3 separate regions of the Homo sapiens genome follow, and regions 1 and 3 are each linked to region 2. The links come from fine-mapping of genetic effects on gene expression. A gene starts in region 2. Each other region holds a variant in brackets. All regions are shown on one strand. Distances are between the middles of the regions.

Region 1 (5,643 bases), 45 kb before region 2:
GGGAATTTTGATGCTTAAATTCCTTGGTTCCTTCTGTAGTGGATTTCTTCTTTTTTTTTTTTATTATACTTTAAGTTCTAGGGTACATGTGCACAATGTGCAGGTTTGATGCATAGGTATACATGTGCCATGTTGGTTTGCTGCATCCATCAACTCATCATTTACATTAGGTATTTCTCCTAATGCTATCCCTCCCCCAGCCCCCCATCCCCTGACAGGCCCTGGTGTGTGATGTTCCCCTTCCTGTGTCCAAGTGATCTCATTGTTCAATTCCCACCCATGAGTGAGAACATGTGGTGTTTGCTTTTCTGTCCTTGTGATAGTTTTTTGAGAATGATGGTTTCCAGCTTCATCCATGTCCCTGCAAAGGACATGAACTCATCATTTTTTATGGTTGCATAGTATTCCATGGTGTACATGTGCCAAATTTTCTTAATCCAGTCTATCATTGATGGACATTTGGGTTGGTTCCAAGTCTTTATTATTGTGAATAGTGCCACAATAAACATATGTGTGCATATGTCTTTATAGTAGCATGATTTATAATCCTTTGGGTGTATATACCCAGTAATGGGATTGCTGGGTCGTATGGTAATTCTAGTTCAAGATCCTTGAGGAATCGCCACACTGTCTTCCACAATGTTTGAACTAATTTACACTCCCACCAACAGTGTAAAAGTGTTCCTATTTCTCCACATCCTCTCCAGCATCTGTTGTTTCCCGACTTTTTAATGATTGCCATTCTAACTGGCAAGAATGGTATCTCATTGTGGTTTTGATTTGTATTTCTCTGATGACCAGTGGTGATGAGCATTTTTTCATGTGTCTGTTGGCTGCATAGATGTCTTCTTTTTTTTTTTTTTTTTGAGACGGAGTCTTGCTCTGTTGCCCAGGCTCGAGTGCAGTGGCGTGATCTTGGCTCACTGCAAGCTCTGCCTCCCGGGTTCATGCCATTCTTCTGCCTTAGCCTCCGGCGCTTGCCACCATGCCCAGCTAATTTTTTTTGTTTTGTATTTTTAGTAGAGACAGGGTTTCACCATGTTAGCCAGGATGGTCTCGATCTCCAGACCTCGTGATCCACCCGCCTCAGCCTCCCAAAGTGCTGGGATGACAGCCATGAGCCACCGCACCCAGACAGATGTCTTCTTTTGAGAAGTGTCTGTTCATATCCTTTGCCCACTTTTTGATGGGGTTGTTTGTTTTTTTTCTTGTAAATTTGTTTGACTTCTTTGTAGATTCTGGATATTAGCCCTTTATCAGATGGGTAGATTGCAAAAATTTTCTCCCATTCTGTAGGTTGCCTGTTCACTCTGATGGTAGTTTCTTTTGCTGTGCAGAAGCTCTTTAGTTTAATTAGATCCCATTTGTCAATTTTGGCTTTTGTTGCCATTGCTTTTGGTGTTTTAGTCATGAAGTCCTTGCCCATGCCAATGTCCTGAATGGCATTGCCTAGGTTTTCTTCTAGGGTTTTTTATGGTTTTAGGTCTAACATTTAAGTCTTTAATCCATCTTGAATTAATTTTTGTATAAGGTGTAAGGAAGGGATCCAGTTTCTGCTTTCTACATATGGCTAGCCAGTTTTCCCAGCACCATTTATTAAATAGGGAATCCTTTCCCCATTTCTTGTTTTTGTCAGGTTTGTCAAAGATCAGATGGTTGTAGATGTGTGGTGTTATTTCTGAGGGCTCTGTTCTGTTCCATTGGTCTACATATCTGTTTTGATACCAGTACCATGCTGTTTTGGTTACTGTAGCCTTGTAGTATAGTTTGAAGTCAGGTAGCTTGATGCCTCCAGCTTTGTTTTTTTTGCTTAGGATTGTCTTGGCAATGCGGGCTCTTTTTTGGTTCTATATGAACTTTAAAGTAGTTTTTTCTAATTCTGTGAAGAAAGTCATTGGTAGCTTGATGGGGATGGCATTGAATCTATAAATTACTTTGGGCATTATGGCCATTTTCACAATATTGATTCTTCCTATCCATGAGCATGGAATATTCTTCCATTTGTTTGTGTCCTCTTATTTTGTTGAGCAGTGGTTTGTAGTTCTCCTTGAAGGGGTCCTTCACATCCCTTGTAAGTTGGATTCCTAGGTATTTTATTGTCTTTGTAGCAATTGTGAATAGGAGTTCACTCATAATTTGGCTCTCTGTTTGTCTGTTATTGGTGTATAGGAATGCTTGTGATTTTTGCACATTGATTTTGTGTCCTGAGACTTTGCTGAAGTTGCTTATCAGCTTAAGGAAATTTTGGGCTGAGATGATGGGGTTTTCTAAATATACAATAATGTCATCTGCAAACAGGGACAATTTGATTTCCTCTTATCCTAATTGAATACCCTTTTTTTCTTTCTCTTGCCTGATTGCCCTGGCCAGAACTTCCAACACTATGTTGAATAGGAGTGGTGAGAGAGGGCATCCCTGTCTTGTGCTGGTTTTCAAAGGGAATGCTTCCAGTTTTTGCCCATTAAGTATGATATTGGCTGTGGGTTTGTCATAAATAGCTCTTATCATTTTGAGATATG[T/C]TCCATCAACACCTAGTTTATTGAGAGTTTTTAGCATGAAGGGCTGTTGAATTTTGTCAAAGGCCTTTTCTGCATCTATTGAGATAATCATGTGGTTTTTTGTTGTTGGTTCTGTTTATGTGATGGATTATGTTTATTGATTTGCATATATTGAACCAGCCTTGCATCCCAGGGATAAAGCCCACTTGATCGTGGTGGATAAGCTTTTTAATGTGCTACTGGATTCAGTTTGCCAGTATTTTATTGAGGATTTTTGCATTGATGTTCATCAGGGATATTGGTCTAAAATTCTCTTTTTTTGTTGTGTCTCTGCCAGGCTTTGGTATCAGGATGATGCTGGCCTCATAAAATGAGTTAGGGAGGATTCCCTCTTTTTCTATTGATTGGAATAGTTTCAGAAGGAATGGTACCAGCTCGTCTTTCTAGCTGTGGTAGAATTCAGCTGTGAATCCGTCTGGTCCTGGACTTTTTTTGGTTGGTAGGCTATTAATTATTGCCTCAATTTGAGAGCCTGTTATTGGTCTATTCAGAGATTCAACTTCTTCCCGGTTTAGTCTTGGGAGAGTGTATGTGTCCAGGAATTTATCCATTTCTTCTAGATTTTCTAGTTTATTTGCATAGAGGTGTTTATAGTATTCTCTGGTGGTAGTTTGTATTTCTGTTAGATCAGTGGTGATATCCCCTTTATCATTTTTTATTGTGTCTATTTGATTCTTTTCTCTTTTCTTCTTTATTAGTCTTGCTAGTGGTCTATCGATTTTGTTGCTCTTTTAAAAAAAACCAGCTCCTGGATTCATTGATTTTTTTGAAGGGTATTTTTGTATCTCTATATTTTTCAGTTCTGCTCTGATCTTAGTTATTTCTTGCCTTCTGCTACCTTTTGAATTTGTTTGCTCTTGCTTCTCTGATTGTTTTAATTGCGATGTTAGGGTGTTGATTTTAGATCTTTCCTGCTTTCTCTTGTGGGCATTTAGTGCTGTAAATTTCCCTCTACACACTGCTTTAAATGTGTCCTAGAGATTCTGATATGTTGTGTCTTTGTTCTCATTGGTTTCAAAGAACATCTTTATTTCTGCCTTCATTTCGTTATTTACCCAGTAGTCATTCCAGGGCAAGTTGTTTAGTTTCCATGTAGTTGTGTGGTTTTGAGTGAGTTTCTTAATCCTGAGTTCTAATTTGATTGCACTGTGATCTGAGACACAGTTTGTTGTGATTTCTTTTACATTTGCTGAGGAGTGCTGTACTTCCAATTATGTGGTCACTTTTAGAATAAGTGCTATGTGGTGATGAGAAGAATGTATATTCTGCTGCTTTGGGCTGGAGAGTTCTGTAGATGTCTATTAGGTCTGCTTGTTGCAGAGCTGAGTTCAGGTCCTGCATATCCTTGTTAACCTTTTGTCTTGTTGATCTGTCTAATATTGACAGAGGGGTGTTAAAGTCTCCCATTATTATTGTGTGGGAGTCTAAGTCTCTTTGTAGGTCTCTAAGGTCTTGCTTTATGAATGTGGATGCTCCTGTATTGGGTGCACATATATTTAGGATAGTTAGCTTTTCTTGTTTAATTGATCCCTTTACCATTATGTAATGGGGTTCTTTGTCTCTTTTGATCTTTGTTGGTTTAAAGTCTGTTTTATCAGAGACTAGGATTGTAACCCCTGCCTTTTTTTGTTTTCCATTTGCTTGGTAGATCTCCTCCATCCCTTTATTTTGAGCCTATATGTGTCTCTGCACATGAGATGGGTCTCCTGAATACAGCACACTGATGGGTCTTGACTCTTTATCCAATTTGCCAGTCTGTGTCTTTTAATTGGAGCATTTAGCCCATTTACATCTAAGGTTAATATTGTTATGTGTGAATTTGATCCTGTCATTATGATGTTAGCTGGTTATTTTGCCCATTAATTGATGTAGTTTCTTCATAGCATCGATGGTCTTTACAATTTGGCATGTTTTTGCAGTGGCTGGTACTGGTTGTTTCTTTCTATGTTTAGTGCTTCCTTCAGGAGCATTTGTAAGGCAGGCCTGGTGGTGACAAAATCTCTCAGCATTTGCTTGTCTGTAAAGGATTTTATTTCTCCTTCACTTATGAAGCTTAGATGGATATGAAATTCTGGGTTGAAAATTCTTTTCTTTAAGAATGTTGAATATTGGCCCCCACTCTCTTCTGGCTTGCAGGGTTTCTGCCGAGAGGTCTGTTCTCTGATGGGCTTCCCTTTGTGGGTAACTCGACCTTTCTCTCTGGCTGCCTTAACATCTTTTCGTTTGTTTCAATCTTGGTGAATCTGACAATTATGTGTCTTGGGGTTGCTCTTCTCGCGGAGTATCTTTGTGGTGTTCTCTTTATTTCCTGAATTTGAATGTTGGTCTGCCTTGCTAGGTTGGGGAAGTTCTCCTGGATAATATCCTGAATAGTGTTTTCCAACTTGGTTCCATTCTCCTTGTCACTTTCATGTACACCAATCAGATGTAGATTTGGTCTTTTCACATAGTCCCATATTTCTTGGAGGCTTTGTTCGTTTCTTTTTAGTCTTTTTTCTCTAACCTTGTCTTCTTGCTTTATTTCATTAATTTGATCTTCAATCATTGATACCCTTTCTTCCACTTGATTGAATTGGCTATTGAAGCTTGTGCATGCGTCACGAAGTTCTCGTGCCATGGTTTTCAACTCCATCAGGTTATTTAAGGTCTTCTCTACACTGTTTATTCTAGTTAGCCATTTGTCTAATTTTTTTTTTAACGTTTTTAGCTTCCTTGCGATGGGTTTGAACATCCTCCTTTAGCTCCGAGAAGTTTGTTATTACCGACCTTCTGAAGCCTACTTCTGTCAACTCGTCAAAGTCATTCTCCATCCAGCTTTTTTCCATTGCTGGCGAGGAGCCACAATCCTTTGGAGGAGAAGAAGCACTCTGATTTTTAGAATTTTTAGCTTTTCTGTTCTAGTTTCTCTGCATCTTTGTGGTTTTATCTACCTTTGATCTTTGATGATGGTGACCTACAGATGGGGTTTTGGTGTAGATGACCTTTTTGTTGATGTTGATGCTATTCCTTTCTGTTTGTTAGTTTTCCTTCTAACAGTCAGGTCCCTCAGCTGCAGGTCTGTTGGTGTTTGCTGGAGTTCCACTCC
Region 2 (5,643 bases):
TTTTCAGGGCACAGAGAAGCCATGCTCTCAGTACCTCAAGTCAGCTTACTGTCCTCTAAACAGATTTTTTCTAAGAGCTCATGTGTGTGAGGGCTGTATTTGCCAAGCAAAAAGATGGCCTTTGCTGGTAGTGTTAAAAAACATTTTTTTTCCCTTAAAACGCAGTCTGATATTTTATTCAAACAACTTCTGATGTGATGACCTGTTTAGTTAATGGAGAAAGAACAGCCTGAAGGAAGAAAACACGGGGTTTATTTCTGGCCTTCTGCTCTCTGAAACAAAGGACAAGGCACTTTCCTTCGGCTCTCTCAGAGTTAGCCGAGTTAGAGCTCTCCACCATAAAACGCCAGGACAGGGCAAAGAGGGGGCCGACCATCTCAAACACCATGGGATTCTAAGTGGGGGCTGACCATCTCAAATACCCTGGGAGTCTAAGGGTTAATTTTGAGGTAACCTCCTACAGATGGTTTTATGGGGACAACTGAAAACTCTCTTTAAAAAAGTACGACTTGGTAATTTAAAATTTACTGGAACAGTTAAATATGTAGACATGCTAGTGAAAGAGAACAAATCAACCTGAGTATAAAGGATGAATAACTCATTTTACCTACCCTAGAGACACTTATAGTGTATAGAGAGATATTTCACAATAAACCTTTGGATGTACAAAGATCAACAGAATAAAAAAGGAGTGAAACTCTCCTTTCACTAGGTCTGGAAGAGAGAAGGAAGCTTAGTTCTTAAAAAACACCACAGAGAGTTCTGATGCATAGCCTAGTTGAAAAGCATTTCTAGAGTGATTTTGTAACCACTGTGCTGCCATTTAACGAATTTCCTCGTTTTTGACTCATAGTTAATAAATTATCACTATTAATATGCATTTTTTTGTGTACAGGTAATATAATATGTTCATCAAGATGGTAAGCTCCTTGAAGAAAAGCACCGTGGTTTATCATTCTATCTGTTTTGCTGAGACCACTTAGCACTGGGATGAGTATGGAATAGCTTGGAATGACTTTCAATGTGAGTGAAATGTCTGGCAGGAAAAGGCAGGCTTTGAGAGGCTCCCCAGGAGGGCACAGCCCACTGCTCTGAGGAGTGGAATAAATTCTTGGAGGCAGGATGGGCCAGTGAAAACTCTCTGTGCAGACCCTGGTGACATCATCTGCTAGCTACATGTCCTTAGTATCTTAATGTCCCTACATCCATAGCTATAAAATACCGTACTGGGGGCCTGACAATAAAGAAAACAACACATGGCACAGGGACATTTCAGGGAGATGGCATTTTAGGAGAAATGGAACGCCAACTCACCCGGACCCTGGTCATTTCTTACTCCCAGAGGGGATGGATTCCTGGAAAGGCAGAGTTAGGGAAAGAGAAAAAGCCATGAAAATCAAGTCCAGCAAGACTGCGGGGAAAAAGTTACTCCGCTCCTGCCTCTGACGCTTCTTCAGTCACTTCCACCCACACTCCCTCCATCAGGTGAGAGGTGAAGCATTTTCTGTCACCACCTTCATCTCTCTCCACAGGGCTTTCGATTAAACAAGCCAAGTTTTCCCCCCAAAACCAAGAGGCTAGGTAAATTCCGCAGCCGCCGGCAGCTCGAAGCCGTGCCCATTTCCTCTGACTTTCCCGATCTCTGTCCTAAAGTTCTAGTTAAGAGGAGAAGCTTCTCGGGATGGATTTCGGTTGCCCAAGACGCCTTCCCCGACCTCATTCTCAGGAGCCTGGCTCGTTCCTGCGGTGCGGGGGCTCAGATGCAAGCTCTTTTCAGCGAAGGCAGTGCTGCGGACAGAAACCTCAGTCTCTTACAGGAGCCCCCGTCCGTCGCCTAACGTCCACCGAAAACCCCCCTGCAATAACGCCCGTCACAGGCGAGGAAAAGGCCGGCGTGGCCAACCACGAAGCCCCCAGCCGGCCCAGGCCAGAGCTCGGCCAGGAGGGAGGAGGGGCCATCGGAGGCGCGGCCGCTCAGCTGCAGGGCCCCACAGGCTTCGGTGTGGCCGCAGCCCGGCCCCGGGGGCGCAGCAGCTCGGAAATGCGGCGCCGGGACACACGTGCCGCCGCGGGCCGCGCCTCCGCTGGTCGCGTGCCCTACCATCGCCGCCCTCCCGGCTTCCGCAGCTCGGCGGCCCAGCGCCTTACCCGCGGCACACCCATTTCCTGACCCCTGAACGCCTCTGCCAGCGGCTGGGGAAGCCCGGCCAGTCTCACCTCCCACGTGGAACCCCACGCCTGCAGGGGCCAGATTCCGGATGCTGACCGCTCGCGCGCCTAGGGCCCCGAAATACAAGTCCCAGCAAGCCGCGGGCGAACCACGCCCACTTCCGGCGCGGGCCCCTGAACTCTGCGCTGTGCGGAGCGGGATTCTTGGGCGGAGGGGACCATCTTTGAGTCAGCGACGCGTGTATTCAAGTCCTCCTCCTCGTTTTTTATTACAAACAAATAAGAATTATTTTAGGAATACCTGTTAAGGTGATTTTCATTTGTTAAAATACTATTGGGGGAAAAGGATGTAAATACCCATAATTTCATCTTTACCTTTCAAAACATTCTGAAGTGAATATTTGCCATTCGGCATCTTCCATCTCACCTCTGAAGTTCATCCATTTAACAGATATTAATTGAGAGCCAACTGTGTACCAGGAGCTGTTCAAGATGCTTGCACAAAAGTCACTGCCCTATTCTAGTTGGGGAAACAAGCAATCCATAAATATAGTAAATATATGGCGTCGTGTGTGTCATGAGGTGGTACTGAAAGCATAGAGCTGGGCGGGGTGTGGCGAGGTGCGTTTGTGGGTGTGTAGGACTGGAGGTGTACTTTGCAATTTTAAATAGGGGATCTTGGAACAAACACAGGAGGTGAGGGAATTAGACAAGTGGCTCCCAGCAGTCAGAACTCTCCTAAACGCACACAAGGGTTGTTGATACCAGGATTTTACGTTTATTTCACTTCTCACCGAGTGACACAGAGCTACCCATTTGGTCTTTTCCCAATTCCTTTCTTTCAGATTTATTTTGGAGAGGAAAGAGATGTTGCCTGGACCTCTCTTCTACATCCTCCCCCTTCCTTGGTGTATTAGTTTCCAATTGCTGTCACAACAAATTAACACAAACTTAGTAGTATAACAAACATGTATTCTCTTAAACTTCTGGAGGTGCCAAGTCTGAAATCAAGTTTTACTGGGCTTTATAAAGTCAGTGTTGGTGGGGCTAGTTCCTCCTGGAGGTTCTAGATGAGAATATTTCTTTGCCTTTTCCAGTTCCCAGTGACTATTTGCATTCCTTGGCTTATGGCTCGCTCCTTTATCTTCAAAGTGCATGACTGCAACCTCTGCCTTCATCATCACATCACATGCTCAGGCACTGGCTCCTCGTGGGTCCTTCTAATAACGACTGTTGTGATTACATCAGGCCCAGCTGGCTAATCTGGGATAATCTCTTGACGTCAAGATCCTTAATTTAATCACATTTCAAAAAAAATCCCTCTTGCCATAGAAATTAACATCCACAGCTTCTGGGGGTTAGGACATGGACATATTTGGGGGACTATTATTTTCAGCCTGCGATGCTTGGAGAGGCCCACGTCCCCTTCGGTCTCCTCCTCAGAGATGCTGTCTTACCTTTTGCCTGGGGAACACAAAATGTCTCCCTTGGACCTTACTCCTCTCCTCATTCTTCATTGGAAAACCACAGAGCTTTTCCCTATTTAGATTTACCACCCTTGCCCTGACCTTCACTTCCTCATGTGCTCACTTCTCTCCTCACTCAATTTAAGAGGCCATGGAGCATGGTTATGGCCAGTCCTGTGTATGTGCCGTTACCCTTAACTCTCTTGTCCCAGTCTTTCTTGGTTTTATTCTCTTGATGGAAACCCAAATCTGCTTGAATCCAGTTCCTGGCCTGCGCCTGTACGGCAGAGGTTGTTTGAGAAAACCACATGGCTGGGATGATTGGTTTCATTTTCAGTTTATAACCATTAAGTTCAAGTGGGCCCTTCACGCTGCCTGGCTATCCTTCTACATTTCTTAGTCCATCCATTCTCCTAAATGACTATTTCACAGGTTCTACTCTCTTTTCATTATTTATTTATTTATTTTTTTGAGCCAGGCTGGAGTTCAGTAGTGCGATCTTGGCTGACTGCAATCTCTGCTTCCTGGGCACAAGCAACCCTCCCACCTCAGCCTCCTAAGTAGCTGGGACTATAGGCTTGCGCCACCACACCAGGCTAATTTTTGTATTTTTTTTTTTAAGAGATGAAGTTTCACCATGTTGTTCGGGCTGGTCTCCACCTCCTGGGATCAAGCGATCGTCCCACCTCAGCCTCCCAAAGTGCTGGGATTACAGGCTGAGCCACCATGCCTGGTCTTCTACTCTCTTTTCAAGCCGCCAACAACTCCTCCCATCTCACTGAGTGCTGATGACTTTGCTTTCTGTTACTGAGTAAAGAGAACTTCTATACCGCCTCACAGGCACATCTGCCCTCCTCTCTGCATTAGAAACTGTATGCTCTACTTTTCATTCTGAGTCACTGGCCCTAGTTCCTATATGAGAAAATTCTTTTGCACCCTGGATGTTAAATGCTTTCTCATGAATGAGGTCCTTCTCTCTCTTCTGTATTTCAAGATTTTCATTCTGTACTGAATTATCAGCATACTAATGAATACACTGTAATATTGTCCATAAAATAAATAAAACCCCTTACCTTGCACCCTATTTCTCTCCAGCCACTACCTCATTTCTCTGCTTTGCTTTACAGCAAAACTCCTAAAAAAATTGTCCCTAAGGGATGTTTCCAATTTCTTTTCTCCCATATTCTCTCTTTTTTCACATGCAAAACCCAAAATTTAATTTTTAACTTAATTTTAAAAATTGGTATATAATAGATGCACATATTTTGGGGGTACATGTGATAATTTGATTAATATTATGTGTAAAGATCAAAGCAGGGAAATTGGGATATCTATCGCCAAGTATTTGTCTTTTCTGTATGCCGGAAATATTCAAATGATTCTCTTCTGGCTATTTTGAAATGTACAGTAGGTTAATGTTAACCATAGCTAACCTACTGGTTTATTGAACACCAGGTCTTATTTTTTCTGTCTAACTGTGTATTACACCTTGGTATGTTTTGGCTCTGTGTCCCCACCCAAATCTCATCTTGAATTGTAATTCCCACGTGTTGAGGGAGGGACCTGTAATTCCCACAAGTGGAGGGAGGGAGGTGATTGGATCACAAGGGGCAGTTTCCCCCATGGTGTTCTCATGACAGTGAGTGAGCTCTCACAAGATCTGATGGTTTGTGAGATATGTTTGGAAGTTCCTCCTTTGTTCTTCTCTCTCCTGCCACCTTGTGAAGAAGGTGACTGCTTCTTCTTCCAACATGATTGTAAGTTTCCTGAGGCCTCCCCAGCCATGTGGAAGTGTGAGTCAATTAAACCTCTTTTCTTTATAAATTACCCAGTCTCAGGCATTTTTTTATAGCAGTGTGAAAAAAGACTAATACATACCCCTTAACCAGCCTCTATTCAGACCCCTACCTCTACTCTTTCTGAACTCTGGTTACCACCAATCTACTCTCTATCTTCATGAAATCCACTTGTTTTTTTGTTTAGCTCCCACGTATGAGTGAGAATATGC
Region 3 (5,643 bases), 34 kb before region 2:
TACTCCCTATTCGTACACCCCCTCCCCTTTTGAAATCCTTAATAAAAACTTGCTGGTTTTGTGGCTCAAGTGGACATCACAGTCCTATCGATATGTGATATCACCCCCAGAGGCCCAGCTGTAAAATTCCTCTCTTTGTACTCTTTCCTTTATTTCTCAGCCAGCCATCACTTATGGAAAATAGAAAGAATCTACATTGAAATATTGGGGGCTGTTTCCCCCGATATTTTTCCTTCCTTCTTTCTTTTCTTTCTTTCTCTTTTTTCTCTCTCTTTCTTCTTTCTTTCTCTCTCCTTCCCTTCCTTCCCCTCCTTCTCTTCTCTTCTCTTTCTTTTTTTCAGAGTCTTGCTCTGTCTCACAGGCTGGAGTGTAGTGGTGCCATCTTGGCTCACCACAACTTCCACCTCCCAGGTTCAAGCAATTCTCCTGCCTCAGCCTTCTGAGTAGCTGGGATTACAGGCGTGAGCCATCATGCCCAACTAATTTTTGTATTTTTAATATAGACAGGGTTTCACTGTGTTGGCCAGGCTGGTCTGGAGCTCCTGACTTCAGGTGATCCACCTGCCTCAGCCTCCCAAAGTGCTGGGATTACATGCATGAGCCTCCTCTTTGTCTCTTTGCCTTCTTTCCTTTTTTCCTTCCTTCCTTCCTTCCTTCTTTCCTTCCTTCTCTCTCTTTCTTTCTTCTTTCTCTCTCTCTCTCTTTCTTTCTTGTTTTAAGACAGAATCTTGGCTGGGTGCGGTGGCTCATGCCTGTAATCCCAGCACTTTGGGAGGCTGAGGTGGGTGGATCACGATGTCAGGAGATTGAGACCATCCTGGCTGACATGGTGAAATCCCATCTCTACTAAAAATACAAAAAAAATTAGCCAGGTGTGGTGGTGGATGCCTGTAATCCCAGCTACTCGGGAGGCTGAGGCAGGAGAATGGCATGAACCTGGGAGGTGGAGCTTGCAGTGAGCTGAGATCGCACCACTGCACTCCAGCATGGGTGACAGAGTGAGACTCCATCTCAAAAAAAAAAAAAAAAAAAGAGTCTTGCTCTGTCACCCAGGCTGCAGTGCAGTGGCACAATCTTGACTCACTGCAACTCTGCTTCCCAGGTTCAAGTGATTCTCTTGCCTCAACCTCCTGAGTAATGGGATTATAGGCATGTGCCACCACACCTAGCTAATTTTTGTATTTTTATTAGAGAGGGGGTTTCTTCATGTTGGGCAGGCTAGTCTTGAACTCCTAGCCTCAAGCCATCCACCTGCCTCAGCCTTCCAAAGTGCTGGATTTTGGGTGTGAGCCACTGTGCCTGGTCTCACATAGCCTTTCTTTGGTGCTTCAGTGCAGAGAGAGAGAGAGACAGAGAGCTCCCTGATGTCTCTCCCTATAAGGATACCAATCCTATCAGAGCCGGATGCCACCCTTATGACCTCATTTTACCTTAGTTGCATCCTTAATTGAGGATGTAATTTGGAGGCAGAATCTCCAAATACAGCTGTATTGGGGATTATGACTTCAACATAGGAGACGCAAACATTCAGTCCATAACAAAAGCTTAAAATGAGCCTTTCAGGCCCCAATTACTCAGCCTTTTCTCCTCCCATTGGAGCCTCTATCTCTTCATCTATAAGTGGGTAGAATTATCTATATCTGGAAGAGTGGAACTAAGCCTTGAACAAACCATTATTACTTGTCTAATGTGTGCCCCCTGCCTCGTGCTCAGTGGGTCCAGGAGAGGGAGCTCAGATGTTAAGGCTGCACAAGTACAGCTTAGCGCCTGGGTGCCATCATGTTCTGTGGTCTCAGAGTAACATTCTGTTAAAGAGAAAGGGAAATTGAGAGAGATTAGGAACCACACTCAGTCTCCGTGGAGTGTTAGGGCCCTCATGTCTTCCTCAGCATTGATAGTTCCTGGGTTCATGGCTGATATGGTCAGGATGTGTGTCCCCTCCACATTTCATGTTGAAATATGACCTCCACTGTCAGAGGTCGGGCCTAGTGAGGTACTGGATCATGGGGGCGGATCCCTCATGAATGGCTTAGCACCATTCCCTTGGTGATGAGTGAGTTCTTGGTCAGTTCTCTGGAGAGCTGAGTGCCGGTTGTTTTAAAGAGTTTGGCCCCTCCTTCCTCAGGTCTCTCTTCTTCCTCTCTTGCCATGTGATGCACTGGCTCACCCTTTGCCTTCCAGCATCATTGGAAGCTTCCTGAAGCCCTCAGCAGAAGCTGAGCAGATGCTGGCACCATGCTTCCTGTACAGCCTGCAGAACCATGAGCCAAGTAAGCCTCTTTTCATAAATTACCAGCCTCAGCTGTTCCTTTATGGCAATGCGATAATGGGCTAACACAGTGGCCCTGGGCTCAGGATTAACAAGGCTGTGCTAGCACCAAGCAATCATACTGGAAGGCTGAGGTGGGAGGATCACTTGAGCTGCGGAGGTCAAGGCTGTGATGAGTTTCCTGGAGTCAAATGATTCTCATGCCTCAGCCTCTTGAGTAGCTGGGATTATAGGTCTGCACCATCACACCCAGCTAATTTTTGTATTTTTAGTAGAGACGGGGTTTCACCATGTTGGCCAGGCTGGTCTTGAACTCCTGGCCTCAAGTGATCCTCCTGCTTCAGCCTCACAAAGTGCTGGGATTACTGGCACAAACCACTGTGCCTGGCCCAAGTAATTGTTTTGTATTGATTGAATTTTTCTTTGTTTCTTACACTTCAGTTTAGATTTTAGGGTATATGTATACTTATAAAAAAATGAGATCATGTCTTAAATAT[T/G]CTTTCTTTTTTGAGACAGAGTCTTGCTCTGTTGCCCAGTGCCCAGGCTGGAGTGTATTGGTGTGGTCTCGGTTCACTGCAACCTCTGCCCTCTGGGTTCACGCGATTCTCCTGCCTAAGCCTCCCAAGTAGCTGGGATTACAGGTGCTCACCACCATGCCCGGCTAATTTTTGTATTTTTAGTAGAGTTGGTAGAGACAGGGTTTCACCATGTTGGCCATGCTGGTCTCAAACTCCCGACCTCAAGTGATCCACCTGGCTCAGCCTCCCAAAGTGCTAGGATTACAGGGGTGAGCCACTGTACCCAGCCAATGTTCTTGTGTAACTTGCATTTAAAATTTTGTGATATGCTGTGAACTCTTTCCATGCCCCATTCTATCTTGAAAATATGCTTAATGGCCAAATATTTTTCCACTTTTCAAAACTGCATTTGGGTTTACCCATATCCTATATTTTGACATTTAGACAACTTCTGCTTTTGCTCGTGTAGGGGATTATTCCATTAAAAGTAGACAAGATAATTTTGATCAACCTGTGTAATAAAGAAAATGGACAAAGCTGAAAAAAATATTTTAGGCTGGGTGCAGTGGCTCTTGCCTGTAATATCAGCACTTTGGGAGGCCGAGGCAGGCGGATCACATGAGGTCAGGAGTTTGAGACCAGGTTGGCCAACATGGTGAAACCCCATCTCTACCAAAAATACAAAAAATAGCCAGGCTTTGTGGCACATGCCTGTAATCCCAGCTACTGGGGAGGCTGAGGCATGAGAATCACTTGAACCCAGGAGGTGGATGTTGCAGTGGGCCAAGATGCATCAATGCACTACAGCCTGGGTGACAGAGTGAGACTCTGTCTCGAAAAAAATAAAAATACTTTCAACATTCTTTCTAAGCACATAAATAATAAGACAGTGATCACTGGGGTATGATGTAAAAAGAATGGGAATTCCATGTCAGCACAACGTATGAGGCTGCCTTTGCTCTGGAGACTCAGGCTGACCTGAGAGAGGTAATAGGCTGAGGTTTGCTTTTAAGGGTGTTGCAGGGATGATGGGGCAGAAAGAGACCTCTGTGGCCCATGGATGAGATGGACCAGGATACCTCTGCCTTGACCGGACCCTTGGAAGATTCTGTACAGGTAGCATGAACAAAAAGAAAATCAGCCTTCCCACAAATTGCAGTGGACTTCAAGATGTTTGGAAAGCCCAGAACATTCTTCAGCCCTGAAATCTCCTTTTATTTTTATTTTTTTTTTTGAGATATGGTCTTGCTCTGTTGCCCAGGCTGGAGTGCAGTGGTGTGATCATGGCTCACTGCATTCTCAACTTCCTGGGCTCAAATGATCCTCCCAAATAGCTGGGACTACAGGCATGTGCCACCATGCCCAGGAATTTTTTTTTTTTTTTTTTTTTTTGTAGAGATAGGGTCTGTTGTCCAGTTGCCCAGGCTGGTCTCAAACTCTTTGACTCAAGCAATCCTCCTGCCTTGGCCTCCCAAAGTGTTGGGATTATAGGCATGAGGCACTGCACCTAACACGAAATTCCTTTAAAGATATCAAGGAGTGTGTCCCCCGTTAGCAGCAAGAAAAATTCCTCTGGAGGAGGAAACATCATCTTAGGTCTCTCTCTCTTCTTTTTTTTTTTTTTTGAGACGGAGTCTCGCTATGTCATCCAGGCTGGAGAGCAGTGGTGTGATCTCGGCTCACTGCAACCTCCACCTCCCAGGTTCAAGCAATTCTCTGCCTCAGCCTCCAGAGTAGCTGGGATTACAGGAGCCCACTACTATGCTTGGCTAATTTATTTTTATTTTTATTTATTCATTTATTTTTGAGACAGAGTCTTGCTCTGTCCCCCAGGCTGGAGTGCAGTGGCACAATCTCGGCTCACTGCAATCTCTGCCTCCTGGGTTCACGCCATTCTCCTGCCTCAGACTCCCAGGTAGCTGGGATTACAGGTGCCCACCACCACGCCCGGCTAATTTTTTGTATTTTTAGTAGAGACAGCGTTTCATCGTGTTAGCCAGGATGGTCTTGACCTCCTGATCTCGTGATCCACCCGCCTTGGCCTCCCAAAGTGCTGGGATTACAGGAGTGAGCCACCACACCTGGCTTCTTTTTTTTTTTTTTTTTTTAGAGCTAGAAGAGAACATCATACACATAAATTCATTGCATTATACAAATAAACACCTGATTGACAGATCACATCATGTGAAATTTATATAGAAAATAATTGATACAGGTTATAATAATTTATGCAAAGATAATATTAGAAAAATTGGAAAAGATTAAATTATGCAGAATTGAAAATTCACTTAAGAATAAAAGAGGCATCTGGGAGGTGAGGAGTGCCTCTGCCCGGCCGCCCCGTCTGGGAAGTGAGGAGCGCCTCTGCCCGGCTGCCCATCATCTGGGAAGTGAGGAGCACCTCTGCCCGGCTGCCCATCATCTGGGAAGTGAGGAGCACCTCTGCCCTGCCACCCATAGTCTGGGAGGTGAGGAGCGCCTCTGCCTGGCTGCCCTGTCTGGGGAGTGAGGAGCGCCTCTGCCCGGCTGCCCCGTCTGGGGAGTGAGAAGCGCCTCTGCCTGGCTGCTGTGCAATCTTCCAAGTGTGAAGTGACAGCCTTTCTGCAGGTGTACCCAACAGCTCCAAAGAGACAGCGACCATCAAGAACGGGCCATGATGACGATGGCGGTTTTGTCGAAAAGAAAAGGGGGAAATGTGGGGAAAAGAAAGAGAGATCAGATTGTTACTGTGTCTGTGTAGAAAGAAGTAGACATAGGAGACTCCATTTTGTTCTGTACTAAGAGAAATTCTTCTGCCTTGGGATGCTGTTAATCTATTACCTTACCCCCAACCCCGTGCTCTCTGAAACATGTGCT

Evidence for each region. PIP is the estimated chance that this variant, and not a neighbour inherited with it, causes the effect. A credible set is the group of variants that fine-mapping cannot tell apart.
Region 1: its variant is the best candidate, but not a certain one, in a credible set for the expression of ZNF239 in adrenal gland (GTEx, PIP 0.50).
Region 3: its variant is the best candidate, but not a certain one, in a credible set for the expression of ZNF239 in whole blood (TOPMed, PIP 0.58).

Annotation. Positions count from the first base shown.
Region 1 is chr10:43,527,118-43,532,760 of GRCh38, forward strand. No RefSeq gene overlaps it. Among named protein-coding and RNA genes, the nearest start is that of ZNF239, 45 kb to the right of the region's middle. The variant T/C (reference allele first, on the strand shown) is at 2,520.
Region 2 is chr10:43,572,323-43,577,965 of GRCh38, forward strand. It overlaps ZNF239 (zinc finger protein 239), which reads right to left and starts at 2,294. Exons shown (of 4, transcript NM_001099282.2): 1 at 2,218-2,294; 2 at 1,315-1,355. RefSeq lists a silencer at 2,017-2,076.
Region 3 is chr10:43,538,726-43,544,368 of GRCh38, forward strand. No RefSeq gene overlaps it. Among named protein-coding and RNA genes, the nearest start is that of ZNF239, 33 kb to the right of the region's middle. RefSeq lists an enhancer at 5,469-5,643. The variant T/G (reference allele first, on the strand shown) is at 2,767.